Regions from separate parts of the Homo sapiens genome. Here region 1 is linked to region 2. Evidence: fine-mapped expression QTL. A gene starts in region 2. The other region holds a variant in brackets. All regions are shown on one strand. Distances are from middle to middle.

What was found.
Region 1: its variant is fine-mapped to the expression of RXRG in tibial nerve (GTEx, PIP 0.97).

Annotation. Positions count from the first base shown.
Region 1 is chr1:165,456,953-165,473,165 of GRCh38, forward strand. No RefSeq gene overlaps it. Among named protein-coding and RNA genes, the nearest start is that of RXRG, 20 kb to the left of the region's middle. The variant G/C (reference allele first, on the strand shown) is at 9,541.
Region 2 is chr1:165,436,704-165,452,916 of GRCh38, forward strand. RXRG (retinoid X receptor gamma) reads right to left here and starts at 8,423. Exons shown (of 10, transcript NM_006917.5): 1 at 8,142-8,423. The coding sequence starts at 8,190.

The DNA.
Region 1 (16,213 bases), 20 kb after region 2:
GGCCCCTGGCTTCCTGGGAGGAGCCGCCTTACTAATAAAGAGATTGTCTTAATAATGTGAAGTACCCGGGTGCTATGGTAACGGGCATTACATGATCTGGAGAAGAGGAGCAGCTTTTGATAAGAATAGGGAGCCTGCAGATGGGAAAAGGGGGTGGGGATGCACACAGGATGGGAGTGGAGGAAAACGCAAATGTGGATAGATAGAGTGAGCACCAGCGGGAATGAACAAACAATATTGTTGGTTCCTGTCTCTCAGAGTGGCCTCTCCTGTCTGGGCCCTGCTATCTGCGGGGTTTCTTGAACATTTCCAGATTTTTGGGTGCTACTGCAATTTTAGAACCCCATGCACTTAAACTGAGAGCCCCCATGGCTTTTTAAACACATAAGCACATGTAAAATCTGGATAAAACCAGGTTGTGATCAAAAAAAAAAATTAGAAACCCAAGTTTTTTGTATTCACCAATGGATTATTTTAACAAGTTCTCTCATAACTGTTTGAAACAGGCTTGTGACCCAAGATGTTTTCCATAAGTCCTACCAACGTGGAGAACCAGAAAATTTGTGCACTGTGAAGATGTCAATGCCAATGCCAATGTCCATGCCATGAAACTTCATAACCTTATTAAATACTACTGGTCCATCTGAGGACATGCTGCACAGCTTAGAAGGGTGTTGGTGCAATGAAAAGCACATTAGATGGGGCAAAGGAAAAAAATGTCACGCCTAATGAGTCCTTCTATGTTTCAGACACTGGACTGGGCACTTATGCACATTAGTTTCTGCCACAGAGTCTGATAGCTTGGGTCCTGGACCCAGCTTGCCACCAGCCAGCTATGAGAGCTTTGGGTTTTTTTTTTAAAGAGAAGCATATCTGTTCACAGACACTTTATTATGATTCTGTTATTAAAAGAGCTTCCTCCTCATGTGGTCACTAACTGTCTTCTAGTTAACCTTTGCTTTGGTTTTTACCTCCTGCTATTTCCTCACTTATAACTGAGGTCCTGAGCCAATCACAGTAATGAAGACAGTTTAGTTCCTTCTTGGTTTTATATTTTGGCTTAAGCTCTTTTGGTAAATATTAATTGCCGCAAAGGCAAGTTGAGTGTGACTATTTTGTGTGTTTATTTCATAGGTGTTTCTACTGCTGCCAGGACTAAAGGAGGTGGGTATAAAAAAAGAAGAGTGATTTAGATTAGGAAACTGAAAGAGTTTCCTGGCTTCCAGGCTGTAGGGTCCGTAGGAAGGTAATGCCTTAGGTGGCTATACATATCCTCTTTCTATGAATTTTTAAAGAAAAACTAGACTCTTCTTTTCCTTCATTAGTGTAAGATCAAATGTGCCTGCAGATAAAAAAGAGAACTGCCCATCATTCCTTTCAATATTTTATCTAAGTTTCAAGTAGCTTTAGATTTTTCAAAAACATTCTTTAGTCTGGAAAGAAATATAACAGAATTTGAACAATGTTGAACTTTAGACCACACAATCTTGAAGTGATTTTTATTTTATTTTACAGTATTCAATATTTTAACAAATTCTCTATGACCATGTATTACATTTACAATGAGAAAAATAATCAAAATATTTTAAAATCTTAAACAAAAATGTTCTTTAATCTTTTGACTTGTTTATTTTTGCCATTGGTATATCACAAGTCACAGCCCATTTCCTCCATACATTCTATTTCATATAGTGAGCAGCTGACAAATAATCAAACAAACAAACAAAAATAGCCTGGAATCCTCATCTCCCTGAAAAAGCCATGAGATTGAAGCCAAATATTATCAAAAAGTCCAAAGACAACAAATGTTAGCAAGGGTGTGGAGAAAGGGAATTTCTGTGTACTACTCGTGGGAATGTAGATTGGTACAGCCATTATGAAAAACATTATGGAACTTTCTAAAGAAATTAAAAATAGAACTACCACGTGGCCTAACAATTCCTCTTCCAGAAATATACCCAAAGGAAATGAAATCATTGCCTCATAAAGAGGTCTGCACCCTCATGTTCACTGAAGCCAAGCCATATTCACAATAACATATTCACAATAGCCAAGATATGGAAACAACTTAAGTGTCCTTTGATAGAAAAATGGATAAAAAACTCTAGTACATATATAGAATGGAATACTATTCATCCCTAAAAAAGAATGAGCTCTTGCCTTTTGCCACAACATGAATGCCTCTGGAAGACATTATGCTAAGTGAAATAAGCCAGACAGAGAAAGAAAAATATTACATGACCTCACTTATATGTGGAATCTAAAAAAAAAATTCACATATACAGAGATAACAAAACAGTGGTTACCAGAGGTGGGGTGCAAGTAGGGCAGATGGGGGAGATGCAACAGATATATAGGATGACACACCTAGAGATCTAGTGTGCAACATGAGGACTGTAGGTAATAAAATTGTACTGCATATAGGACTCATGCTAAATAAGTAGATTTTAGCTGATCTGGCCACAAAAAAATGGGTTACTATGTGAGATGATGAATATAGTAATTTGTTTTACTATAGAAACATTTTACTATCTCTATGTATCCTATAACATCGTGTTCTGTGCCTTAAATATACACAACAAAATGCATTAAAAATAAAAAAGCCTGGACCAGAAAACCAACATTTTATGAGCATCCCTGGATACAGCCCCTCAGAGGCCCACTCACCTGAATTACATGAGACATCTCATCCCATCAATGACTCAAACTCTTCAGTTGCCCCTCCTCCTCCTCCTCTCTTCTATACTCCCTCCCACCCCTGATCATTTAATTACCTGCTTTTCAAGTCCCTCAGAAGTCACCGAAAAGACATACCATCAATATTTTTGGATTATTACGGCCTGTCTTGGTCCTCCTCTATCCTGCTAATTTTCTGACCTTTATAAAGTGTATGCCCAGTGAAATTAGAAGACCTGGGTTCAAATCCTGACTCAGCTATTTACAACACATAGGAAATTGTATTAGTCCATTTTCATGCTGCTGATAAAGACATACCTGAGACTGGGCAATTTACAAAATAAAGAGGTTTAATGGACTTACAGTTCCAAGTGGCTAGGAAGGCCTCACAATCATGGTGGAAGGCAAGGAGGAGCAAGTCACATCTTAGATGGATGGCAGCAGGCAAAGAGAGGGCCTGTGCAGGGAAACTCCCATTTTTAAAGCCATCAGATCTCACAAGACTTATTCACTATCACGAGAACAGCACAGGAAAGACCCACCCCTAGGGTTCAATTACCTTCCACCAGGAATTACAATTCAAGATGAGATCTGGGTAGGGACATAGCCAAACCATATCAGAAATATACTTATCCTCTCTGAGCTTTCATGCTCTCATCTATGAAATATGGATGATAGCTATGAAAATCAGATTGAAAAACGTACAAAAATACATGACACCATGATCAATACATAGTAGGTGCTCAATAAATATAAGGAAGGTCTACAGCTATTCTTATTTTGAGAGGACAGTTCAACCCTAAAACCAGTCCGTGGAGTTAACCAAGACATCCACTGGATCCTTTTGATTTTTCCCAAGCAGAATCTTCGGCAGCTTAACCCCCAAGGGGTCAGGCTGATAGGGATAACTTACACAAGCCATGGCTGTCAACAGTCTGCAGTTATCTGGACCTGTCATCAATCTTAACAACAGCAGGGGGTGGTAAGCATTGAGCCAGCTCTACATGCTGTGGAGCAGTAGAATGGTCCTTTTTGTTAAGGATTTGTATTTTCCGATAGGTTCTATAAATATGGTTTAATGAACTACCATTTGCCAGGTACTGTGCTGGTCCAGAGGATGAAAGAAGTTGAAGAAATGGTTCCTGCTCTCCGGAGTGCACAGCCTAATGAATAATTTTGATATGGAAATCTGTGTTATGTGACACTGTTCTTTCATAGCTGCCCTCTCTTCCCCTTCCCAGCTACCCTTGAAGGGGTTGTTTAAGCAACCCTCATGCCCACCTTCTACTTCCTTCTCAACCCACACAGCCTGGCCTCTACATCCTTCACTCTAATAGGACCACTCTTTCCAAGGTTATAAAAAAATCCCTTTGCTTCAAACTTGAATAAATCTTATCTATGTTTATTTGCAAGCGTGACATCACTCAACACAACTGACTATTCCCTTCCTTTCCTGAAGCAGGCTCACTTGGCCTTCCTGGCACAAGTCTCTTCAGATCCAAGTGTCAAGGGGCCCACTAGACATTCACACTTGGATATCTCATAATCTTCTCACACCTAACCTTACCCAACTAAACTCACGATGTTCCCTCCAAACCTGGTTTTTCCAGGGTCTGCTATTCCCAGATGGTATCTCGACCCAACCAGGTTACTCAGGCCGGAAATCTAAGAGTCATTCATGAATCCACTTCCCCCTAACTCCTTATTTCTCATTTGATGCTGTGACTTTTCTCTATCTCTGATGTATTCACTTTATCCTATCATCTTCTTTTGCCTAGACTTCTGTAAAAACTTCCTAACTTCTTTCCCTGTTTCTGCTGCTAAGACCTCCATTCCATTAGCCACAAAATAACCAAAACGGTATTTATAAATCACAAATTTGATCATATTACTCCCATGCTTAAAGTCCTTTAATGATTTATCATTGCACTGAGAAATAAATTCTCTTCCTGTAACTTAATCTTCGAGGTTCCCATGACCCAGCCCCTGGCTATTTTTTCTCAACTCTAACCTCATATACTCTTGCCCTGATCACTGCATCATAGCCACACAAGCCTCCTTTCAGTGCCTAGAACACACCATCCTCTCTCCTATTCTAGAGCCTTTGAACATGCTATGCTCTCTGATTAGAAGGCTCTTACACCCACTCTTCCGGGCAACTCCAAGCCACCTTAAACCTCAGTATAAATGTCACCTCCTCAGAAAAGTTATCCCAAGTCTGCTATACTCCCTCACAAAGCCTTGTTATTTCTCTTTGTAATTTTATCAGAGTTTTATATTTACTGATTCTGTTATATATATAACATAACATATCTTGTTGTGTGTACTCCTAATACTATAAATAGCATTAGGGCAGAAACTTTGTGACCTTAATTGTCTTCTATTTAGTAAAGAAGTCTCGTAAGAAAACAGGACTATATACCCATAAAGGAAATTTGTGCTGGCTTCAGAAATTAATCAACTTACTCTTTCATTCAAAAAATATAAATAGACTTCTAAGGATCACTAGATATTTGAGAAAAATCACCATCACAAATAAATGTAGATTAACAAATAAAACACTGACCACAGGGGAAACCAAATAGAAGTGAACTTTTAAAATATTTCTAACTAGTGTGCTCAGAGATTCAAAGAAATATTACATCCATAAAACAAAAATTGGTGCTGTAAAAATAAAACATTCAAAGAGCAAACCAGAGTTATTGCACATTAAAGATGGAGTTGCTAAAGAAAAAGATCAATAGAACAACTAGACGACAAATTCAAGAAAATCCTCCAGACCCACAGATTAAAAGGACATAGGGACGGAAAATATTAGAGAAAAGTTAAGCAACATAGAGAATCAATGCCGTAGATGAACTATCCATTCAATGAGAGTTCCAGAAAATGAGTGCAGAGTAAATGGAAGGGAGAAAATAATTTAAAAAAGAAAGAAGAACAAGCAAATGCCTAGAGCTTACAAAAAAAAAATTACGAACTGGGTCCACATTTAAATATATCCCCTGGTAAAGTTTAGAAACACCAAGGATAAAAAATATCCGAAAAGTTTCTAAGAGAGGAAAAAATTAAGTTCATCACCTACAAAGCAACAAGTATCAGACCATCATTACTAAAACTATATGCTAGAAGTCAATGATCAAAGAAAAAATCATCTTAAATCTAGAATTCTAGCCAAACCAATTAAGGAGATGGGAGTAGATGAGTTTATAGAAATGCAAAGACCCAGAAAGTTAACCTCTAATGCACCCTTGTGTAAAGATCATTTGAAAGCATACTCTAACCAAGCGAAACAGACATCTAAGAGGAGAACTTGGGATCCAAAAAAAGTGGAAGTAAACCAGAGGGAAATGAATTGATATCCTATAGTAGCAATTCTCTGGAGGGCCGCCTAGAAAGTAACCAAGAAAATTAGAAAAGAGAACAGAGCTGTTTGAGAAAAATGTCTTCAAGAGTCAAGAAAATTTCCTATAGCAAGTAACTGGAATAAGAAGCTAGATGACCTCAATGATAAGGTGAAATAATAACATTATTTTGTAAGCAAGAAGAAAGAAAAACAGTTAAGAATACCAGGAAAATTAACAAAGAGCTAAAAAGAAAATCATGGAATCATGGTCTAAATATACAAAAATGGAAATATAACAGAATTCTGAGCATGAGTAGAATGTATGAAAACAGAACACATCTGACATTGATTCTGAGAGCATCCCCCTCTCGAATAAAAGAGATTTAACAACATAGAATTCATCCTCTCTCTGTGTCTAATTGCACTACTTGGTTCTGAAGAGAATACTAATTACATAATCATAATGTAAATACTGATTGATTTCCAACTTATAAAATCAACATATAAACAAAACACAAAGACTTAATGGTAATTACAGAACAGAATTTAAATATTTTCAACCTAAACAATGTAAAAGTGACAGAACAGCTAACAGGTTGTGGAGAAAGGGTGAATTTCTTATTTCATAGTGCAGAATTAGGAAATACTGTCTGAAGTTGAGATATCGAGAAAGATAGTCTTTCAAAATATAAATTAAATATATTATTTAAAATCACATAGGCAACAAAAATAAAGCAAAAGGAAAATTAGGAGGCTACTATAAACAAGTTATAAATTCTTCCTCCTCTACAGTAAAAAAATCAATAAACACTGTTTAAAGTCGAAAAACCAAGAAAAAGCAATATAAGCATTTAGGCAATTAAAGTTTGGACATAACCACCAGAAGAGCTAGAAACAGAAAAGGTTAAACCTAGAGACAGGTGACGGGGGGAAAGCGACATTTTAACTCTTGTTTTATATTGTTCTATATGGCTCAGGTACTTATGTCTCTGTGCATATATTACTCTAATTAACTAAATAGTGAGTGAAGAATATGCAAATGTAAATAAACAGAAGTTCTGGGCCAAGGGACTCAGCTACAGAGCTCTCTGAGGGAAAGGTTGTTTGAACAGAAAAGCCGTAGAGTAAGGAGCAACCTCCAGGAGCTCCCTCCCGTGAGCACCCCTCCAGGTGTTACAGAGCATAGGCCTAAAGGGCTGTAGTTGGCCACAGGCTCAAGAGGAGCCAATCATTTTAAGTGGTCTAAACTAGAGACTCTGCAGCAAGGAGAGCTGGGTGAAGGTCATATGACTTAGTGGTCAAAATTATAGACTTTGCAACACTCGGCCTTATCTGGACTGTCACTTACTAGCTATGTGACCTCAGGCAAGTGAGGAAAATAATTATACCCATCCTTGAGGGGTCTGATGTGGCTTAAATGAGCTCATTTGTGTTAAGCATGTAGAACAAAGCATAAGATGAGTGTTAGCTATTATTACCATTATAAAGAATACAAATTGCAGCTTAAGGAGGAGCCTAAGGACAACAATGAATGTGTTGGCAATTCTGTTCAGTGATGATTCCCCGTAGCTTTTCCCCTCCTTAACTATTAGAGAGACAACTTGATTTTAGCTTGGGAAAAGAGAATGCCACTTTTGGGAACAACAACTATTAATACTAATACTACTAATAAATGCTAACATTTATTGAGCATTGACCAAATGCCAGGAAGTGTGCAAAACACTTTACATAGATTATCTCATTCCATCCTCACCACCATCAGGTGAGACAGGCTTTATTATCTCCATTTTGTAGAAGAGAAAACAGAGGAATTATTATGTTGAACCATGTGAAAATGCTGTTATTCAACCATTTTTTTTTTACCTATGAACAATAGCAATTTGGAATAATTTAATTTTAGAAGCAAGTAGCCCAAGTCAGTTCTTAGCAGAACCCAGTTTCAAGCCTGTGTCCTGATATATTTCATGCTGTTGAAAACACTTCTGCAAGGATGACTGGGGAGGGCACCCAGGACAATGAACTAAGCTGTATGGAAGAAGAGAAGATACAGGAAACACAGGGAAAGTAACTTGGACTTTTTTGTGTCATGTGAAAGAGGCATTAGGCCAGATGTGGTGGCTCATGTCTGTAATCCCAGCATTTTGGGAGGCCAAGGTGGGTGAATCACCTGAGTTCAGGAGGTCGAGACCAACCTGACTAACATGGTGAAACCCTGTCTCTACTAAAAATACAAAAATTAGCCAGGTATGGTGGCAGGCGCCTGTAATCCCAGTTACTTGGGAGGCTGAGACAGGAGAATCACTGGAACCCAGCGGGTGGAAGTTGCAGTGAGCCAAGATCACGCCACACTCCACACCAGCCTGGGCGACAGAGCGAGACTCTATCTTTAAAAAAAGAAAAGAAAAGAAAGGGGCATTAAAATCATTCTAAAATATTCTAATAGAGCCACAAGGTTAAATCCAAGTTTGTAGGACCTGATGCCATCAATTTGAAGGCTCCTCTTTTTCAAAAAAATTAATAAGTACATATGTAAAATTGGATATTTTCTGAATCATCTCTTAATGTGATCTTATACGTCCTTAGTCACTATGGGTGCTCTCCTCAGAAACTGCAAGGCTGTAGGCAGCCTTGCAGATGGGTTTTTATGAAATGCTTCAGGAAGCAGAGAGTGAAGGCATTGGAGGCTGCACACTTGTCAGAGTTAGGGAGAGCATTCCCGCATTGCACCCATGCAGAGACAGGGACAAACCCCATTCCATCTGGCAGCCTGGACCTGCTACAGCTGAGACGGTGGGCCTCAGGGGGACTCTATTGTTTTAATATGCAGTGCATCTCTCTTGAAAAGTCAGTGCCTGCTGAAAGGTCCCTTTACTCATCAGTGGGTTCAATCAGTGTTTTCTTACCCTAACCCCATCTTACCTGCCTAGCCTCCCTTTCTCCACACCCTCCTTCTTCTTTCATCACCTCTCAATACATCTCTGCTCCCCGAACACTTAAGCAGAGACTCAGGCTTCCTCTTCTTGTTACTTTCAGAAAATTCCGTAGGTGGAAAGAAATTTAATCGGTAATAATAATGCTTTCTATTTTTAGAGCTTCTGCCTTCTGAGCAACCCGAAGAATGCCACAGCTATAACAAAATCGGTTAAAGGGTTGAAAGGGTCTTCTAAAAGTCTTCTAGAAAAGTCTCCTGCAGTGAGGCAAAACTTCCCCGAAACCCACTTTGGGCAGGTGGTAGCCTCTCTTAATCTGACCCTAGAATCAAAATCAGCTCCATGCCTGGTACTCTCAAGCTCCAGGAACTCTCCCCATCCCAGGCAGGCCCCTTCTTTGCATCCCCTGCTTTAATTCATCTTTCCCTGAAATGAGTGCAACAAACTCTTAGTGTTCTCCCAGCCTTTAGCCTCTTCTCTAACAACCTCTACCTACCAATACAATGAACTTTCTCAAACACAGCTCTGATCATCAGACTTGGAATGCATAAATGGATATGCAAAGTGTCATGGGGACACAAGGGGGATGGG[G/C]GTTAAGAGAAAGTGTCGAAAGTTGAGATTCAAAAGATAGTAGGAGGTCACCAAAAAGGGTGGCAAGGAGGAGATATGGCAGGCAAAGGGTACAGCCAATACAAAGGATTGAGTCTTAAAGAACATGGATGTTTGAGGCACAGTAAGTAATGCACAGTGGAGTGGGGAGGGAAGCAGAGAGGAGCCAGCAGAAGAGAGGGTGGAAAGGAGTGAGGGGTCAGAGAGGAAGCCAAATCTTTTCTCTGGTGGCAGTAGAATAGTGGGGTGGTAGGAGCCACTGTGGAGCCTTGGGCAGAGTTCAGCTGAAAGACCCTGATCCCCAGAAGAATAGACATGTATCAGAGAGGAAGGCACTAAAGGAAAACATAACAATATTGCTGTTTCACCCATTACCTGGGCTCCAAATTCCTTAAACTGTCTACCCCACCCCCATATACATACACACACATTTGCACACACTTCCCCTTCTAGAAAATGTAAATGATCCTAGTTACCTATTGCAGTTTCTGAACTGCAAGGTAGTATAGAGAGTCTTAGATCTGGAGTTAAAGGGCCTGGTTTCAAACCTGTTCATATGCATTTGGCCTCACTGCTGTGCTTCGTCTTCTTTAGCACTAAAATGCAGTAGTGACACCTCCTTCCTGGAGTAGTTGAGACTATTGTTGGAAATATATATGAAATACCTAGGACAGGTCCTGGTACATAGGAAGTCTTCAGTCAATGCAATTTTAATGTAAATTTTGTTTTCTTTAAGATCATCTCTACAATACCCCAAGAGTTCCATGCCCCCTAAGCCTTTAGGTAGAAGCTATCTTTGACAGGCAAGGGACATATGTAGGCTCTAGCTAATTGCACTGCCGATGCTGCTCCAGCAAGGCTTTGCTTGGATTTTTCTGGCATGGAGTTGAGATAGGGCTAACACGTATAGAGAGCTAGGCTAATGGGGAACCCTGGGGGGTGTATTCATGTGCGCACACACACACACATGTGCATATGTAGGTACTGCTCATGCTGAAGGGAGGAGGGAAAGAGGGTTGGATAAAGCAAATGAACGCAAAAAAGTGGAGCAAAATCCAGCTGTGCAAAAGAGGGTTAAAGTAGATGAAAGCCTGGAGAGGGGATCAGCGCCCAGCTTGCGTAGTCCTCATTGTCACCTGGGTGGGCACACATGGACACTGCAGAAGGGGACTGCCCACACCCTCTCAGTGGAATCTCCCAGTTGGGCCACTCAAGTTCAAAAGGACTCCTTCCCTCAGTGCACTCTCTCCAAGCTGAAGACATTCTCCAGGGCTTAGGGCTGGGGGTTGGGCGGAAGGGAGGATAACTCCACCAGCATTCAGCGACCCGCCAATAGTTTCCAGGGCTTCCTCTGAGGAAAGGTTCTCTGAGCACATGCTTTTCCGTGACATCACTGTCAGTGACCTTTGGGGTCCAGTAGGGTGGAGTCTGAAGGGAAGGGGACAGGCCACAATTCTTTGGTCACCACAAAGGTTGGGATTGTGAGCCGCCCAGAGCTGGATAGCCGCCTCAATGAGGACAATGTCTCTTGCTGGACTGGGAATGGCTTCCCTGCCGGAGGATACTGCAGGACTATAGTGGACCTGTTGTTTTTGCTTTTTTTCTATATTAAAAAGCACATTGTTGAGCACAGAGGTCATGTGTGCGCGTGTGTGTGTGTGTGTGTGTGTGTAGAAGCGTAAAGAGTCTTGGAAAATTGAATTTTGCTTTTAGAACAAGAGATGATGATGTGGAGCAGAAAACTTACAGCCTAGCTCATAGAAAGAAGTGCATTTTTGCTTTTTGGAAGCCTGGAGAATGAAGGAAGGAGGGGAGAAAGGAGAGGAGGAGGGGAAGACTTTTGCTGGTATTTCAATAACACCAAGCAGCACTGAAAGAGATCAATATGCCCAATGAGTCCAAAGCTGATTACAGTCGAGCAAACACAGTCAACTGCCCTGTGTTCACTTAAAGTAATAGCCTTAAACACTTGGAGGAAGTAACTCAATTACCTTATTGATTTGGGATTTCAGCCACCGCCCCCATCATACAACACACATGAATACCACCACAGACCCATACATATTATTTGTTTTTGTTTTGTTTCTTTTTAAAAACTAATGTGACTGGCATGACCTGCTCCATTAGCTTGGAAAATAAATAAAATGATATCTGTTTTTCATATGCACATTAATCACTCAAGTCACCACCTGCCCAAAATGAAGGATGGCCAGTTTCACATCTCTTGGGATCTCCTCCCCCAAAACTGAAGAGCCCCAGGTGCTCACTTAGCCCAAATTGGTTAGTGTAAGGAAATAATTGAGAAATCTGATCAGTTCAGCAGCCCCCTCCTCCCACACTCCCATTTCCTGCTGTCATCTCTTGTAGCCCCTGCCACATGGGGCTGCTGATGAAACCACACAGCCCCACACAGATTGATATCTTGTCACTGCTGGGCCCATGCCTGGCTAGCCTAGACCCCTACATGGACAACAGTGTTTCTTGAGGGAGGACGATCCTGCTGCGTTAGTGTTCACCCACGCACTCATCTATTTACATTCATGTAAGGTCCGGCTGTTCCAAAGCCAGGTCCTCAAAATAGGGGGGCCTCCAATGACAGCCAGAAGCAGTCCTCCCTGGAGATTTCTCCACCGGAGGCTCCTGAGACATTCTCCTACTAACAGACCTCCGCCAGGGCCAGCAAAATCATCACAACTTATGCCACTGACTTGCAAAAGCTCAGCAGGGACTGGAAAATGTCTCAGACCCTATTGAATCCAATGTCCTTGTTTTACATATGAGGAAAATGAGGCCCAGCTGACTCAAGTGACACATACAGAGCCACACTATGACCCTGGAGAATGCTACCTTCCCAGGGGTGGGGGTGAGGTGCCAGTGAGGCCAGCAACTCTTGGTTCCACACCTGGAAAACATCAGGAGGTATATGTGGAAAGGTGGCCCTTCAGTTACCCCAACCCCATTCTCCCCAATGCCACACTTGTGCAAATGCCTGGCCACAGAGAAGTCCCACATGTCGGCCTCTGCACCGAATGCCCCACATCACAGAACCCTTAGTTCTGGGCAAACTGGGACAGTTGGTTACCCTAGACTCTGCTCTAGTGATTAGCCTCCTCTTGTGCCATAGTTTCAAACTCTCCCTCTCAACGGGCTCTTCTCTATAAGCTTGAACCTTTCCCGCATTTAAATTGTAAAAGTCCCTTCATCTAACATTTCTCTCTCCACACTCGTCACCTCACCATTCTCCTCCACTCTGCTTTTGCCTTTCCCGTCTCTCTTCTCTTCTGTCCTTTCCCATTTTTCCTCTCTCAAGTGTAAAATAAAGTCCTGCATGTGCGCCCGTGTACACACACACACACACACACACACACACACACACACACAAACTCATGTTCATCTCCCTTGTGCAGTATACTGGGTGAGAAAGGTCGCAGCTCTAGTAGCTTCTTTGGTGGCCACGTGGCAGTGTGCTGAACCTGGAAAGACTCCAGGAGTGGCAAGGCCTGGTGCTACCTAAGTACTGGGAAGGCAAGGGCTGGGTGGCAGGAAGGAGGACGAGACCAGGCTAGTCTTCCAGAAATGCCCCAGCCCCTGCAGCTCCTCTCCCTGTCAGGTGGAAACAGCCGAGATTCATCCTCATGGCCTGGGGATTCCAGGCATCCAGCTGCGGAGGCAGAGGAGACCCCCAAACCAGCTCAGTAGGTATGAGCGGCATTTGTTCTGCTGCTTCAGATGAAAAGGTCACCAGCACTTGTCTCCACCCTCCACCCCCACTGCCTGTCTTCCTCTTTCTGAAGAAAAGGTTTTTATGTTGTAGAAGCTCCTTCTTGACGTGTGCACGCTCCACCCTTCATGTCCTCACAGGAGCTGTCTGAGTGGTTTACAGGAGACCCTTTATCTTCCTGACACCCAGGCTGACAATGTGCTATATACTGAGGAAAGAGAAGGGAATGTCACCAAAAATTATTGAACACCGACTAAGTGTCAGGCATCATTCTACAAGGTAAGGATACAGTGGTGATTAAGACTGAGGTGTTCCCTGCTCTCATGGAGCTGACATTCTAATGGGAAAACAAAATATACAGGTAGACATACATAGTAATTATAGATTGTAGAAGTGCTAAGAAGGAAAATAACAGGGCATTATGGTACAGGACAACACAAGGGACTTCCTTGGGGGTAGAAGGAATTTCTCAGATGCTTTCTGAGTAAAAAGCATTTAAACTAAGGCCTGAACAGTGGGACTGGAGAAGACACAATTTGGGGTGGAATTTAAAGGCATGCTCATACAGCCCTATAATGTCTGTGTTATCGTCACCCACAATTTATGTGTCAAGGAATCAAGGATCTCAGAGATGAGGTCATGTGCCCGGCGGCATGGTTTAAGCCAATGTGATCAATACCAAAGCTAGGCTTTCTTTGTTACCTTCCCTTGCTTGGGGAATCTATGCTTGCATTCTGAATACTAAAAAGCATCTGGGGGCCGGGCATGGTGGCTCACACCTGTAATCCAGCATTTGGGAGGCTCAGGCAGGTGGATCACTTGAAGTCAGAAGTTTGAGACCAGCATGGCCAACATGGCCTCTACCGTTTTGGTAGACAACACCCTGTCTCTACCAAAAAAATACAAAAACTTTCTGGACATAGTGGCATGCACCTGTAGTCCCAGCCACTTGGGAGGCTGAGGTGGGAGAATCACTTGAACCCAGGAGGCAGAGGTTGCAGTGAGCAGAGATCACACCACTGTCCTCCAGCCTGAGTGTCAGAGTGAGACCCTGTCTCAAAAAAAAAAAAAAAAAGAGGCATCTGGGAAGCTTTTGCAATCTGGGTGTGCAGACTTCAGCTAACCCTTTGAGATCAGCATCCAGTCTTGGTAAAATGTAAGTACTGAGCACCCACTACATGCCCATGGCTGACCAATAGCGTTCTTGAAAAACAAGCCAAGGGCATAAGCAAGAGCTCAGAGATGGAGTATGAAAGGGGTACAAGGCAAGGAAGATCCTGAAGGTCAGAGTCCCTGAGCAGGGCAGCGCCACAAGGACAGAGCCAGGCCAGGCAGAGAGGAGGGGGTGCAGACTCAAGCTGGGGACTCTGTGAGTTCAGGCAAGAAGCTGTCTCTTCCAGAATACAGCTGAGGACCACAGAGAGGGACTGGAAAAGCTGCCCCACCTTTCCATGACCCAGTACAACCATGAGAAAGTAGAGGAATTGATCCAGTTCCCTGGATCAGTCCATCCATCAACATTTTCTGAATATTTAGCTCATAGGTCTCAAGTACTGCATGTAGTATGGTGAGAAATTCAAAGAGCACAGAACCATGATCTCAACCCTGCAGGAGCTGAAAACCTCCTTGAAAAGACATGTTCCTGCTTCTGAAACAACCGAACAGCACTTCGACTTGCAGCTGGTGGCACAGCCAGGTGGGCCTGGAGAATAGGGCTTCCTAAAGGAAGCAGACCCAGTGTGCATTAAGTTTTAAAGGTGGGGAAAGATCCAGATTGGCAGAGAGGTGGCAGAGTGGACATGTCATGTAAAGGACATGCCACTTAAAAGAGCACAGAGAGGCTGGGTGCAGTAATCCTGCGTTCATACCTGCAATCCCAGCACTCTGGGTGGCCAAGGTGGGTGGATCACAAGGTCAGGAGTTCGAGACCAGCCTGACCAACATGGTGAAACCCCATCTCTACTAAAAATACAAAAATTAGCCAGGCGTGGTGGCACGCACCTCTAGTCCCAGCTACTTGGGAGGCTGAGGCGGGAGAATCGCTTGAATCAGGGAGGTGGAGGTTGCAGTGAACTGAGATCGCGCCATTGTACTCCAGCCTGGGCGACAGAGTGAGACTCCATCCCAAAAAAAACAAAAAATAAAAATAGCACAGAGAAAGGCTAGCTGGAGGAGGGGCAGTGAGATCATAAGAGATGGGGAGGACCCAGCAGATTCTGGGCAAGGAAGTGACTTACTTAAGGTTCCTGAGTCACAGAATGAAAGCAATGCTTTCAAAATTATAATAGTAATTCTTTGCTTGCATGTAACATCTAGCTCAATGTTTCTGATCATTCCACATATATTATTTCACTGGAGTCTCACAACCACCCACTGAGGGAGAAAGTTATCATTGCATTTTATAGCTGAGGAAATGGACGGGAGAAGTAAAGTGACTTGCCTAAGGTCATGCATGTCAGGGAAGGAGCTGAGACTGGAACCCAGTCCATCAATCTGTGCAAAGGGGAATGCAGTACCATGAAAAGGGCACAGATTTGGAAACCAGACAGATCTTCATTTTAGTGCCACTCCTGCTGGTGACTAATAAGCCTGGGACAGGTTATTTAACCTCTCTGAGTCTCAGTGTTCTAATTTTCAAATCAGTGATGATAAACCTTAGAGAGATGCAGGTTTATTGTGAGGTGAAAGAATGATGGCTCCTGGCACAGAAAAGAATCCTACAAATATTCGTTTTCCTCCTCTTGTTCCACTGCTCCCCATTCAGGTCCTGAACAAACTAAGGAATTGGCCCAACATCCCCCTACCTCCCAGTTGTGCCGATGAAGCTCTGGGACAAGTGGTTCACCCTCACAACCAAGCAGCACTGATCTGGCTTTTGCAAAACCACGGCCCCATCCCATGTATGCAAGGGCTGTGCTGATGGCCAGACACTCA
Region 2 (16,213 bases):
ATCATTTTCAGGAGACCCTCACCCCAGGCAGTGACCTTGAGAAGTCCTGACCCCCTCCATTTCCTCAAATGCAAATGGAACAACCTGGAGTTCCTTGGCCTCTTTTATCAGCTACTGTAACCAGATGGGGACAGAAGTGGGGGACAGCAAGAGTTTCAAGGTTAAAGATCAATCCCAAACTCCTGGTGGGATTTCAGAATTAACAACCAAACTTGAAAAGTGGAAAAGCCTGTTATCATCTTTAATTCAAAAAGCATTTACAAGATGTCAGAGGAACGGGAAACAAAGCACTTAATGAATATCTTGGAGTGTTTCTTCTAGGCTGGTTGCCTGGGTTTCATTTCTGTGACTCAAAATCTCCTTTGCTCCTCCTTTTCATTTTACTGGTCACTAGTGTCATGGGGAAGCAGCCTCCTGGAGGGTTCAGGGCTCACAGTATCTGTTTTCACAGCCCTAGCGATGTGGAGAGCAGAAGTTGGAGAGCAGGGGAAGAACACCCTAGACCAAGAAGAATGCCAGTCAGTCAGTCAGCCAGCACGCCTGGCTAAGCATCTGCTTGTATATGGGCTGTGTAAGACACCAAGAGCATGAAGCCCATTCCCTGCCCTGGCAGAATGTACAAACTAGTTACAAGCTCTGATGTCTTCAAAATATTTGGAGATTAATTATTTCTGCACATTTTTCTTAGGGCTGAGTTTAAGTGAATGGATTCAAAGAATTCAGGGATTTAGAACCTGAGAACAGATAATGTTCTGAATATTACCCAATGGTAACATGGGACTAGGAATATAGTTCGCTGTATTTTAAGAGACTGCCGTCTTTAGAAGACAATCTATAGAGATTGCCCTGTTCAGATAGAGAGAGCCTATCTGAACAAGAAATCCAGAGACAGTAATGGACAGAGGTCATGGATTCAAGAGCTGGGTGTGCACATAATTGATGTTCAAGGACTTTAGGAACGAGAGGAGAACTGGGGGCACCCTCATTGGCATCTGCTTCAAACACTCATTGACATCTGCCTCCATGGACTAACTGGTACATGATGTACCAGTATACGGAATTGGCTTAAAGGGACAGCCAGCCGGTCCTCGTTAGCAGGATCCCCTGGAGCCTCTCATTTGTTAGAGATGGCATAATATCCATCTGTACTAGCAAGGTCTATAATTTGGTGCTGGCTGGGAAAGGTGGTGTGCAAGCAAAATGTCATTCATTATATGCAGAAATGTTCACAGAAATTCTGCTAGACTAGACTCAAATTCTAGATCTATAATAATTTGCAGCAGGCCTTAAAAGGGCCACTTTATCACTCTAAACCTCAGTTTCCTAATCTGTCTAATGGGAATAATTTCCGCCTTACGGACTACACTGTCAGTTTGAAGTTTGAATGAAATAGACGGTGGCCTCCAGGAGGGGCCCCTCTATCTGTTGTGCTGAGATTGACTCAGCCCTGGCTCAGCGATCCTCAGAAAAAAAGTGAAAATACAGGTTGAGTATCCCTAATCCAAGCCTCTAAAATCTGAAATGCTTCAAAATCCAGAACTTTTTGAATGCCAATATCATGCTCAAAGGAAATGCTAATTGGAGCATTTTGGATTTCAGATTTTTGGATTATAGATGCTCAATTGGTAAGTATAAGGCAAATATTCCAAAATAAAAAAAAAATCCCAAATCCAAAACACTTCTGGTGTTAAGCATTTTGGATAAGGGATACTTAACTTGCATCAACTCATTTCATAACTACAACACCACTTTAAGGTCCGTAGTTTTATTATCCCCATTATATGGGGATTAAGCACACGGCTTGGCACAGAATAGACACTCACCAAATATTTTTTGACAGATAACCCAATGATTGGTATGGAAATAAATAGCACATATTCATAAAGAGTTTTAGGAATGTAAGGCATTATCTAGCAGACGGAATAAACTTGGACCCAGGGGCCAGAAGACCTGCTGTTTTTGCCTATATGGCCTTGGGCAAGTCTCTCAACCTCTCTTCTATAAAATGAGGTGGTTCTTCAAGTTCTAAAAGTCTGATTTCTAAACAAAAACAACCAACATGGTCTTATTAATTTACAACATAATTAATTCAGAGTGGTGACTAAACTGGTCATGGTATAAACTAGTTTGTATTTGTTCATTCACAAAATAATAATAAAAAAGGTTTGTTAAGCAAATAAGATGGTAGAAATGTTAAGCCTATTTAAGATACATATGTTTTCAAGCAATTTAAAAAGCATAGAAGGAGCACATTGGCATATTAACGGGGTGTTAATTACAAAAGAATCTTTTAAAGCAGGTTTTCTAAAATCCCCACTGAGTAACCATTAGCTTGTGGTACTTGAAACACAAACTGTTCACATGTGTTACTTAGAAGTAATAAAATTGTAATTTAAAAGTAATCTGCCAACTTGTCACGAATTTAGACTGATTTTTCTCTCAATTGATCCAAATGAGTGAGGTTTTGCTATAATTATATATAATGCTGGTAATAATGAGGCTGATTATCAATCTTTCCCTGCTTTTCACTACCTCCATCATTACAGATTTTAGGGGAGGGGGGCGGGGGTGGAGGAAGATGGGAGGAGTGGGAGCGAGGGGAGGAGGGGGGTGGAGGAGAGGGAGAGAGGCAGGGATGCCACTCTCTCCCTCCCCCTTCCTTCAAGCACCGGAAGCAACCCCAGCTCCCACCCTGAGCAGCTCATCAGCCCTTCTCTGGGGGCTACATGAATCCAGGTGGAACTGCCCTGTGCGGCTTCGAAAGGCTAGCCAGCTGGTCCGAACTGGGGTTGCGTGAAGCATGCAGCAGCGTCAACCCATCAGCTAATGCATGCTTTCATTCTCACATTCCCACTGAGAGGCTGAGAGGCCTGAGCCTCTGGGGGCAGAAGGAGGGCCTCTTCTACATGCTCTCCACTCTCCAACACATTCCTTGATTTTTCCCCACTGAGGAAGCCAGAAAGGGCTTCCATAGCAGAGAAGGTTTCCTTCCCATCAGAAGAAAGCTTCTCTCTGCTCCCCATTCACTGGAAATTTAATGTCTAACATCTTGTTTTCTACATCGGTTAAAATGTAAAGCTTTGCACCAGTAAAACAGTTATAAAATACCTTCCCATTCCATCTCAGGGTGATTGTGCAGCCTAAATGTTTATAGGAAAGTCCCCTTGAATATGCTGATAATAATTCAAATATAAGAAATGCATATTAGCTAATCCCTGGTGTCTGAGTGGCTGTTATGTGGAAAGAGGAGGGAGAAGAAGATTAGGCTGGGCTGGGAGCCCTGAGGAAGGGAACCCAAACTAGGGGTTGAATTGTGAAGAGATAGAGTCAAGATGTGGAGTGTTCTAGTGAGAAAGGCCAGGGTCAAAATCCTGGGAGAGGCCAAGTATTGAATTGGGAAGGGGCAGGAAGGTCTGTGCTGGGTAACTGCTGTAAGAATTTACAGAGTAGTACAGTATAGTACATGGTAGAGCTGGGATTAAAATCCAGATCTGCTGCTTTTCCTCATATTCAAATGCCACTTTTATCATTTATTAGCCAAGTTCCCTTTGGCAAATTATTAATTTCTCTGTCCCCCAGTTTTTACATCTGTATAATGGGGGTAATAAAACTACCGACCTTAAAGTGGTGTTTTAGTTATGAAACGAGTTGATACAGGTTAAGTATCTCTTATCCAAAATGCTTAGCACCAGAAGTGTTTTGGATTTAGGATTTTTTTTTATTTTGGAATATTTGCATTATACTTACCAATTGAGCATCTATAATCCAGAAATCTGAAATCCAAAATGCTCCAACGAGCATTTCCTTTGAGCATCATTTTGGCATTCAAAAAGTTCTGGATTTTGAAGCATTTCAGATTTTAGATGCTTGGATTAGGGATACTCAACCTGTATTTTCACTTTTTTCTGAGGATCACTGAGCCAGGGCTGAGTCAATCTCATGAGAGCCACCAAAGCCCATGCATTCTAGAAAATTAACTTCATTCCCTGGGCCTCTGTGTCTTCTACTTTTAAAAAGAGGAGAAAACACCAGCTTCCTCTGGGAGCCCCTGGCACACCCGCGATCCAATGCTGGTGGCTAAGTTCTCTGCAGACCTAGAAGCTTCATAATGAGGGGAAGGAAGAGGTGGGGCATTTAGATTCTCTTTGCACAATTTCTTCCCCCAGTTGCTATTCAGCTCTCTATCTCTTGGTGAGATTGTAAATGTTTTAGAAAATAGTTTATACGAAATATGTTCCTTCCTAAATCTCATAAACAGTTACTCCTTTCCACATAAACCTTAACCACTTATGCCCATGATAGGTTCCAATTAGCCACCCACATATCTGTGGAGGGGAAAAATATGTTCTAGCATATACACACATGTGCACACGCACACATACAAGCAGGTCCAACTCAACCCCTTCTCTATGGCTATTTTCAAGTGAAAGCAACTATTCTACATGAATGGTCAGGGTCAGTTGGACAGGACTCTTGCAAATAAGTATGTACCCAAGGGAAGCCACCAATTAATTCTGCAGAGATCACCGTTGCTCTTAACCTATCCCATGGCTTATTCCTCAATGGCCAGTCCACTGGGTCTGCAACAACCAGTCAGTGCTGAGGCTGCATATCTGAGGTTGTATTGGAGCACCGGGAGCTCCCTGGGGGTGTGCTGCTGCCCCTGGCTTTGCAGAGCAACTGTGTCACTCACAGAAGCTGTGAGAGGCAGCTCAGCAGTGTGAACTCTGGGAGCTAGTCTGCCTGGGTTCAATCCCTGGCTGTGCCATTTTCTAGCTATAAGACCTTAAGCAAGTTATTTCACCTCTCAATTCCTCTGTTTCTTTGTCTCTAAAAGGAGTACGAGAACAATGGTAACAGTACCTACTCCTAGGGTTGTTATGAGGATTACATGAGCCGAGGCTGGTAAAGTGCTTACAATAGTAGCGAGCATTAGTGTTACAGTGTGTTTGTTAAATGAAATGAGAGAAGTCCTCTCTCTCCCTGATCTCCTTCTCACCCTGAGGATTACTGCACAATTGGATGGGGGGGATTACAGGCTTTGTTTTGCCATCTTCTAAGAGGCAGCAACTGTCTCATCCCAGAAAAACAAACCTATTACTGAGCAGCTGGCAAACCCTGGACTTGGCAGAGAAGGAGAAGAGAAGGTTTCTCTCATCATTACATGGTAGGGCCCAAAGCTGGGAGATTGGGCACCTTTGTGGAGCCACCACGTAGCCACCACACTTTGGCCAGTTTGAGCAATCTGTTGCTCACTGATCAGATGATGCTCTGACATCTGGTAAGCATGGTCCCAGACACAAATCTCAGGTGTTATTTCCAAAAGGTGACTTTGCTTCCCTGGAGATTCTTATACAAATCATGGGGCCCTCTGTAATTCCATGTGCTAATATGTAACAGGGCAGGGGGTTATACACCAAGTATTTTAATAAGTGCCGTGCAACTTGCTGCACTGTGGCAGGGGAGGTTAGAGGCCAAAGGTGACGTCCACTCTAATCCTGCTTTCCCCTGTGCCTGCTTGTGAGTCCTCTGTCCCTCTCCCTCATCACAGAAAGTTCTCAAACAGACCTCCCTGCAGACGGGGGCAGAGTCCTTTGGCTCAGCATTTAGGCCTCCTCTTAACTGGCACATGCCAACAAAATGGAAAACCTCAACAGAACTAAACAAAATAATTCTTCTCCTCCCTCAAGAATGACAAAGAAAAGTAGCTTTACAGGAGACATGTAGACAACCTACATGACCCTTTCCCCTCAAGTTCCCTATACTATACTGAACTATTTCCTTCCATAGCTGAACCATTGTGTTTACTTCTATCTGAAATCTAATTACGCTAAATATCAGAGCCCCCACAATTATGAAAATCTATGCCAGCAAAATATGAGGGTCTTTGTGGATTTAATTTTATTTTCCCAGATTCCTTATTTATTATTTTACAATAATGTCTGATTTTTAACTATTTTGCATGTTAGTCTCTGAGTAAAATAGAGGGGAAGAAAATATTGTATTAGGTAGCAAATATATGGACAACACTATAGCAGCTGTTTTTCACATGCTAACTCATTTAATTTTCACAATACTCTAAGGATGAGATTATAAATCCCATTTTAGAGAGAAAGGTGCTAAGGCTCAGAGAGGTTCACTAGCTTGCCTAAGGTCACACAGCTACTAGGTGAAAAATTGGGAACCAAACTCAGCACACTACCTCTTCCTGCCTCCTCTTCCTCCTGGTGCTCTTTTCACTATATTAAAGCAACAATATTATAAATTTGAGTAAGGGCTTTTCTGGAAGTGTTCTGCAGCTCAGCCCCATATAAATTTGGACTAGTCCCTGCCTTCTTTTGAGCCTCAGTTTACACATCTATAAGATGAGAGCCTAAGATGCTGTTTCAGGTCCTTAGGATGCTAACATTCCAAGATTCCAGCCCCCATGGAATTTTAACTAGATCTTCTTTCTCTGGCTCTTACTTTAGTTCTCTCCCTAAATCCTTCTAGCTTCAACCCTTTTATTCACCCCAACTGTCTCCAAGGGTCTCTTTGGCATTAATGAAGCCACAGTCTCACAGACCTTGGGGGGCCCACGAATCTGGCTGAAAATGAGCATGCACCTCTTACAAATGAACTAAGATGTAAAGGAAAAAGCAATTCTCAGCTCTGAATGGGACTGAGGTGGGAATTGAGGAGGCTTTTCACATCTGGAGCCCAACCATAGACTAGAGATCAAATGCCCAGGTCACAGCATTGGCCACCGCTCTCACTCTGTCATCAGACTGGCCCAAAGAACTTGAACATCACCTCGGGAACATTTCCATGGCCCTCACCCCAAGTCCAAGTACAACCTACGTTTGCTATTACACACATCATGCAGTATTATAATGTGCCTGTGTAACAAGCCTGCCCCAGTCCCAAAGGGCAGAGACTGTGTCTCATTCATATTTGTATTCCCAGTGCCCAACACCATGCCTGCCTCATAAAAACTACCCTGAATGAATGTGCAAACTCCCAGGTCTAACACCTCCTGGTGACAGAGATCACTTCTACCTTGCAGTGTGTCACCATGCCTCCCAGGGGGTTCTGCCCAGCCAAGTTAGGCAAGCTTTAGTCCCAAGCCTTCAGATGAATTGGTCCACGGAGGAAGTCTGGAGAGCAGGGACTTTTCAATTTTCAAAACCTTATAAGAATTTCTGCTGTCTTGCCTGCCAGAATCTTTCTTTGGCTCCCAGCAACATAAGCTGCATGCCTCCAACTGACAAGCGACAGGCCAGTTGGTCAGCTGTTGCTTCCATTTACTCAGAGCTGGGCGGCTGTACTGTTTCTGTCACTAAATCAAGGGATCCTTGGGACGGATGTGCTTGGGCGTTAAGGCAGCCTGAGGACCTAGTCTCCGGAAGCTTCTGTGAAGTGTGACTGGGCTGCCCTGCCTGGCACGGTGACTTGAATCTTCAGTTTGCCAATTCTCTAAGAGCCCCAACCCCCCATCCCCAGATCTCTACCCCCAGAGTGGAAGTGATTGCAGCAACTCTTGCAGTAGAATTGGGGGCAGCAGCAGGGGAGGAGAGAAGAGGCTATTAGCAAATCAAAGGAAAGAAAACAGGGGAAGGAAAACACAGTAGCAAATTAAAGCACTATGTTTTCTTTTTAAAAATCCAATTAAAGGGAAATCTGCTTTTGAGTAAAACAATCATGCCCTTGTTACAAAGTATCCCAGGAACCCTCAAGATAGGCAAAACCTTTTTAATCACATTTTTTCTCATTACAAGTTGGCTAATAGGAACATCATAGTAATTCCCCGTTAACTCTTCCACTTTTCACACCCGCACAAACACACTGGGTTATAACAATGCTCTTATTCTATCTTTGTCTCAGACACATTCTCAAGCATGTTGGTTTACTCTCTCCTTAGAATATCCCCGTATCCTCATTCTGATATGCAAACGTATCCTCACCTACAGACCATTCTTTCCTCCTCTCCTCTCTCATGCACGCGTGCACACACACGCTGAAACGCTATATACACACTATATATGCATATAAACATATATGTTCTCCTTTTAATTCAATACTAATCCAGTCATTCGTATTTCCCAATTTCTTCTCAGTCTCTCATACAGGTCCACGCAGTGAAGCCCAAGGGAGATACTTACCTCCATAGCCTGCGGGAAACTTCATGAAGTGAGAATAATTTCCATACATGTTTACTCGTCAGTTCATGTTCCTCTCCTGTGCAGCTTCTAAATATTACCGCCTCTCTCGGCTCCCAGGCACAGCCCGGCTTTCTTCAACTTGGGCTAACAAGAGTGGTCATCGCTTCCTAGCAGCCCGGGGAGCACAGGCTGGGCCAGCCCTCTGGGATTAGTCAGGAATCTGCCTCTAGATCGGAGAGTCCACATAGTGCGTTTGAGACGGCTGTGGCGGCAGCAGCTGGTGCCTGTCAGTAATCACGCATAATGCTGCCGCCGCCGCCGCCGCCGCCGTCACCGCTACTCTTGCCACCGCCGTCGCTGCTGCTTGAGATCCTGTTGCTAGTTTGATTAACTCAGGGTTGGGCTGCTGCGTGCGACTCTTCCAGCTCCCGGCGCGTCCCCAGAGGTCCCTACCGGGTGGCACGATCTATTATCTAGGAAGCCAATCGATGTATGACCGCCCGGTGTAGGTCAGGAGAGAGGCGGGAGACGGCAGGGGATGGAAGACTCTTTAGGTGCCTGTTCCTTGACTTACATCCACAAAAATCAATGGGATTTTATTAAAATGCATTTTCTCATTCGAACTTCTATCTGTCCAATGTACTTGGTATTTGATCTGTGAAAGGAGGAGGGGGTGGGGTTCAAGAGAGAACAGGGCCCTTTCAGAAGCACAAGATTAGAAAAGCGTGATACTCAATCTCCAGCTACGGAAAACTAAAATAGAGTAGCCCTTAAGTTGAGGTGGGCCTCTCCTGCTTGGGTGGCCGGAAGCATTTATCTGTGCTCTAACAATGGGAGTTTGACAAGTGCAGCTGGAGCCAGAGCTCACTCAGGTGGAAAACTTACAGGTAGGGAGGAGGGGTTGGCTTGATGTGGAGGTCTTTCTCTGCATTTATTTTATATACCATTGTTATCCTGCCGCCTGTTCAAAAACACCACTGGGTCCTCACTAACACAGAGCCTGTCTTGTGTGGAACTGACCCGAGATCAAAGAATCTAAGCACCCCGTTGATGTTTGGGTCTGTCATACAGTTTTCGTGACAAGTCACCGCTCAGCCTATACTTGAACACCTCCAATAATGGGGAGCTCACCACTTTCTCATTCCATTTCTAGATAGTTTTCACCACAAGAAAGTTTCTTATAGAGATAAAATCTGCTCCTTTTCCCTACAGCTTCTGCCCACAGGTGCTAGACTGCTCCCAGGGGCCACACAAGAGAAGCCTGAAAGACAAAAAAGTCTTTCACAGTGGGATCCTCTGCAAATCCTGAGATTGATCTGCTGTGCCCATAATCCCCCTTTCCCTAGGCATCTCTGGCTCTTTCAGTAATTCTATGTATCACCAAGGGTTCATGTCTATTCCCAACCTATCCTTTTTCTAATAATGTACTTCAGTTTACATAGATACCCTCACAGTGAGGAAGGGGGTTGGCCAGACTTGGATGCAATACTCCAGATATGGTCCAAACCTTTTCCTCATGGTATATGTGTTGGCACGGTGATGGGGTGCTGTCAACATACCCATTGAAGGTCCGTTTCATGGGCTGAGCTCTGTTGGGCTGGAAAAAAGATAAGAGATTTTCTCCTGATGCAGCATAAGACATAGAGAGCCAGAGAGGTAAGTCAAATCAGGGTCCCAGAGTAAAAAATCAAGATTCAAATGCTAGGAGAAGCCAAAACAAAAACGTAGAATAAAAGACCAGAGTCAGGAACAAAGTCATGATGACAAAGGAGGAGGCCAAAATGGGGAATCAAAGCAAAAGCATGTCACAAAGGAGGAAGAAATATCCAGGCCTTCACTGTAAAGAGCTTTGGAGAGCCCAGAGCTGCCTTGACTGTTGCTGGGATGAGAGTCCAGTGGACATAAGTAATATAGAATACAGGAGGACCATTTGCTCACTTGCATTAGGTGGGCAGCTCTGCATGTTAATTCATGTAGAACTAACTCGATAAAAATCTCCCCACCCCTACCTCCCCTAAGTTGTGTTCTCTTATGCATATTCTTCATCCCATCCTTGGGCAATTGGTTTTGGGACCTACATGAAATGCTTCCTATATTCCTCTGAAGTTAAAACTTTTTGGCTTCATTCATCATCCCAAATCTTTTAGGATCCTGCTTCTGTTGTCCAAAATATTTCTTATTCATACCCTTATTTCATGACTTCTGAAAATCTGATGAACTGCTTTTTCATATCTTATTCGACTCATTGATAAAAATGTTGACATAGACATAGCAAAGACAACATCTTATATCACTAAAAAGTCCATTCATTAGTGCCTTAGACACTTTGCTCTGCTACTCACTAGTTATATGGCCTTGAAAGGCTATATGTATAGTAAAAGCACCAACTCACCAACTCACAAGCCAACATTGCTGGGTACAAATCCCTGTTCCGCTGCTTACAGCCTCATGATACTGGCAAATGAGTAAATCTCCCTGAGCCTCAGTTACCTTATAGGGTTACCATGAGGATTAAATGAGTCAATACATGTTAAGCACTTGAAATACGCCAGATAAATACTAAATGCTCGATACATGTAATCTAATTTGAGGCAAATGATGGGGAGGAGGAGGAGGTCAAAGAGGAAGAGGATGTAACCTTAAGCAAGTCACTTTATGGCTCCTCTCCTTTTTCTCATTTGTAAAATGATGGAGCAGAGCTACATGGGTTCCAATATCATCTTCAGCTTTAAAACTGAACGCAGACTAATGCATCACCCATTCCATAATTGTCCATTTTCTCCATAGTGGTATCTGAAGCAAGTGTCTTACAATCTACAGTTTTCTATTGTACGCATGTCAGAGAAGGAAATGAGTTACTTAAACTGTTTTTTTGTGTGTGTGTGAACCCATGTTTCAAGGGTTTTTCCAAGTACTCAAGTACTCAAAAACCATTCTTTAAAAATCACAGTCTACAGACTTGTCCAAGGTCATTGTCAAGATGATCTGTTGGTTAAGCCACCAACAGATAGACTCTTTCTTCACCTTTTTCTAAGTTCAGTACATTGTCTATTTCTTTTCCTCACAGAAGAAAAACCAAATCCTAACCTGGCATGGAAAAGGCTCACCATTTGTGGGGTGTCTCGGCCTATCATGTGAGCTCTATGTAGAGGAAAGTGCTTTGGGGCAGTAATCACAAGGCTTGGGATACACACTCTCTGGGAAAAACATCCATGCTGCCAGCCTCACTAAGGTTTCTGGATTTAGTTTTGATTTTGTGGATCAGATGTGTTGAGAGTTGGGCACGTGCTCATTTTTACACTGCGAAGTTCTATACAATGGCTTTGTAAAACAAATGCAAAGAATTAATATTTTCCTGATTTTCTTTCCTCCCTTTCTCTGAGAGTTCCTTCTGATCTGGCTGTTTTGCCCACTGTAGGGGTACGGTATGTTCATTCCAACTTCCGGTTTGATATAGTTTGGATGTTTTTCCTCTCCAAATCTCATGTTGAAATGTGATCCCTAATGGTGGAGGTGGAGCCTAGTGGGAGGTATTGGATCATGGGGTGGATCCCTCATGAATGTCTTAGTGCCATCCTTTTGGTGATGCGTGAGTTCTTGCTCAGTTAGCTCTCAGGGGATCTGGTTGTTTAAGAGTTTGGGACCTCCCCCTCCACTCTCTTGACCCCTCTCTCACCATGTGACACACCAGCTCTCCCTTTGCCTTCCACCATGATTGAAAGCCTCATGGGCTTCACCAGGAGCTGAACAGACACTGACACCATGCTTTTTTTTAACAGCTTGCAGAACTGTCAGCCAATTAAACCTTTTCTCTCTATAAATTACCCAGCCTCAGGTATTTCTTTATAACAACACTAAAAGGACTAACACGTAGTTCATTGTTCATGCCCATTTACTTTTTCTCATCACTAAAATTCTTACCTATCATTCAAGTTCCAGCTCATTTCCCACCATGAAAACACTTATCCAAAAAGATGTCTCCCTAACCTAGGTCTGATAAAACTTATTGTCCAGTGTGTTCAGGTGACACTTAGTATGTATGGCCTTGTGGCATCCCCAGTGAAATGGCAAGGAATGGTTATTTATCTTTCCTTTGAATATGTCTTATCTTCATAACATGATTGTTAACTCTTCAAATATAGTGATAATGTATTATGTCTCTTTGTTTTCTCACCTAAGTGCTAAAACACACAGTAGGTGCTCAACAAATATTTCTGTATCAAAAATGCTTGACATAGTCAAATACATCAAAAACAATATACCAAACGGTACCCCAGTATGCTTTTCTTATGATACCTTCCATATGGCTTAATACCCCATAACAAACCATAAGCTCTGCCTAAAGATCAACAAATATGAATGTGGTTTTTTCTTTTTAACCCACTTTTTTTTTTCTTGGCACCATTGTGTCTTCCCTAAGACCATTATTGGTATAACAACGTTATCCTAAGTGGCTGGTATTTCTAACATAAGCCCTTCCCAAACAGCTCCACTGACTTCAGTCACAACTGTGTCTCCAGCTGTTACTGAATTCTCATTAGGATGTCAAGTGAAAGACCAAATGCTCAAAGTCTACAGTAGGAATTAGCTAATTCATTCACAAGAATTCTTGGCCTACTTCTTGTCAAGGCTAGTTAACTAGTCCTCTTAAATAATATGTTCTACTTTTACTAAAGCCATTAGTGCCTTTGAATAAGTGGAAAGAGCATGGATTTTGACTAGTATGTTTGGCTGTTTGACACAAATTCGGCCAATAATATCTAATATTCACCCTGGTAATCAAAGGATATAGCTTTACGTCTGCTCTTTTTTTCTCTTTTGACCCGTGGTGATATAAAATAGTATTTTGCAGCAAATACAAATGAAAAACCAAACTCATTCATTTGACAATGGCCAATAAACTTTAGCTATAGAATTTAGATGCAAATATCTCCATACTAATATTATGTATTAATATTTTTATATTTTTATAATACCTTACCTACATAATAGTACATTAAGTTTCCATGTGCTATCCCCAATACTAGACTTAAATAGGGCAGGCTTTGTTACCCCAGTTTTACAAATGGGCAATTTGAGATTAAGACTATGAAATCAGAGAATGAAAGACAGTTACTCTAACAAATTGGGTTTTGGATCTGGTCTCACAACTAGGTAGTGAAAGAAATGGGTGTAAAAGCCAGGTCCCCAACTCTGCTGTCTAGTAAATGTGTCTTTCGTGAAATCACAATCCTTCTCTCATTAGTGATATGTTTCCTATCTATGTTTGTGTTACTGCGGATGGGGTTTCTCTATACATAGTTTTTTTTTTTTTTCTCGTTGCTGTTAATCACTTATTCACTTATCATTCAGCTAGCACTTACTGAGAGCTTATTATCTGACAACCAGCAGGAATATACTAAGGGGAAAGATAGATATAGTCCCTTATGCATCCCAATAGAGGAGATGAATATTAAACAAATATTCGTAGACAAATATATACCAGCATAAACCATGATAAGAACTATGAAGGAAAATAATTGGATGAGATGAAAGACTATAGCAGGGAAATCTCATTTAAATTGGGAGGTCAGAGCAGACTTCTTTGAGAAAATGGCAGTTACACTCAGATCTAAAGGCTGAGTAGGATCCAATCTGGGGAAGAAAGCAGGAGGATGAGGAGAGGGTGGACCAGAAAGAGAGAACAATAGGTCTAACAGCCCTGAGGAGGGACTGAAGTCAGTGCATCCGAGAAGCTGGGGGGTAAGAATGTTCAGATCTCCCATGTGAGGTGGTCTGGCCATCTAACATGAGCCATCTGACACAGTCGGGCCATCTAACATGGGAGATCTGAACCATCTAACATGGGAGGTCTAACCATGGTCTGGCCATCTAACATGGGAGCTCTGAACATTCTTATCCCCTGCCCCGCCTGCAGTGAGTTCCGCTGTTTCATTGTCTCACCTATGATTTTTTGCTTGACATGCCCATGTCAACTTTGGGCTCTGTGCTGCCAGAAAACCATCCTTCCTGGCTTTGCCTCACCTTCACTTGCTGGTCAGATCAATGACTCGCCATTTTTCTATGACACTCCCCAGTAACTCACCACTCTCGTGTCTCTCAATATGTTCCTTCTTATATGATTATCATGACTGCACCTGAAAAACCCTCTTACTAGATGACTAGCAACTGAATCCAAGTCATTTTTGTAGCTCCAAAAGCCTTTAACGCCAGAACCTAACTCATAGTAGAAACCCAGTAAATACATGATGAATGAATGAATAAAAGTTTGTTGATTATGCTGAGATATCCTGATGTCAACTCCAGGTCACTGGGCATAAGGAAATGAGTGTTCCCATTCCTATGTTCCAATAGTTTTTAACAGCCCAATTTTCATTTTCATGAGCTCCTTTTTCCTGGAAGCAGACTCCTATGTGGACAGGTTCAATGCTGGCGCTAGTGCGGTACATCAGTCTTGATGACTAAGACCCACTGACGATGGAAATGAGGCACCTAAATCAGAAAGATTGATGATTAGCTTTAAATTAGAACAGTTTCGTCTATGATCCAAAACAGGACCATTTCCAAAAGGCCTGTCCAAAAACACAAATTAAATCTAAAATGTGTCACACACGGCTTAGGAACCAACAATAAGTTTGCATCATAGCTAATTGATCAAGTCACTGGTGAAACCAACTGACTGAGTTTGCCTTAAGGAAACGATTCCCAAATTTATCTGCAAGTTGAAATCATCCAGGAAGCTTAAAAAATTACTCATACCCATGTTCACCTCCAGAGATTATTCAATTAATGTGGGATTGTGGTCTGGGTTTTGGAACTACCAAAAGAACCCCAGTGATTCTAATGTGCAGATGAGTTTGTGAACCATTGACTTGCAGCAAGAGAACATTCTCATAACAAGCTAAGAAAAGCCCAACAGCAGAAAATGAGAAACTGTTTCCCTGGATAATTCCAGGGAACTAATAAGATCCACTTTACCCATCTGCTAGTACACACAATTGGGGCTTATGAGTCCAAGAAGCTCTTGCTTAGCGGGAGATATGGTGGCTATGGCCATCTGCTGTGTAGACGTAGAATATACTGACTTGAGGTTTCCTGGCACTGTGTCCTCAGCATAGCATGCTCCCACAACACTGCCTCTGCTATCAAAATCTTGCTCATTAAAGGCCAGTCCCTCTATCAAGTCTTCCCTTACAAGTAGTTAATACTTCCACTTTCTCTCAAAATTCTTACTTCTTTATTACAGCATGAATTTAATTTCCCTTAGTATCAAAACTAATTGTTAAACTGGAATCTTCTTTTGAGTTCAGGGACAATCTTTTATTCATCTTTATATTGTCAAAGAATGTGGCATTTTGCTTTGTACACAGTAAGTGCCTAATAAATGCTTATTGCATGAATGCTGAGATTACAACAATGAACAGGGCAGACGCTATCTCTGCTCTTATGGAGCTATAAGCTATGAGTTAAGGGTAACATAATTACCCTTAACTCCAAACTAGGTAACACCAGTTACAAAATTTTCAAGGTAGAAGGAACCATTGCATAGATGCCTCCATCTCTTGGTTCCCAGCCAAATGATGATCACAAAACCTTTCCTGTCATAAACAACTCCACCACAGCTGCAGTGCACATGGGAGCTCTCAGAATACAGAACAACTGTGACCACACTGAGAGAATAGGGCTGAGACCAGGGGAAAACATCTGGTCCCCTCTAGAGAGGAGACAGCAGTGCAAATATGGGACTCTCTAATCTAGACTGGGTCCAGATCCAAGGAACCCCAGCCAAAGAAGTAGATGTCAGCATTAGAGCTCAGGAAAATCTGTTCAAGTCCCTGAGAGAGAGATGAGGCAATTTAAAAATACAGCCCAGCCTCTGAGACCAAGTCATTGCCACTTGGATTTTGTTGAACGGACATGTATTAAGAACCACTGTGTAATGGCTACTGGCTACATGTATTCATGTATTCAGGTGTAGATTTGGAGGCTGCAACCCAATCACACACAGGCAAAGCAGTCTATTTTCAGATCCCACTTACTCTTGGGGAGAGGCTCTAAATATACCACCCAGT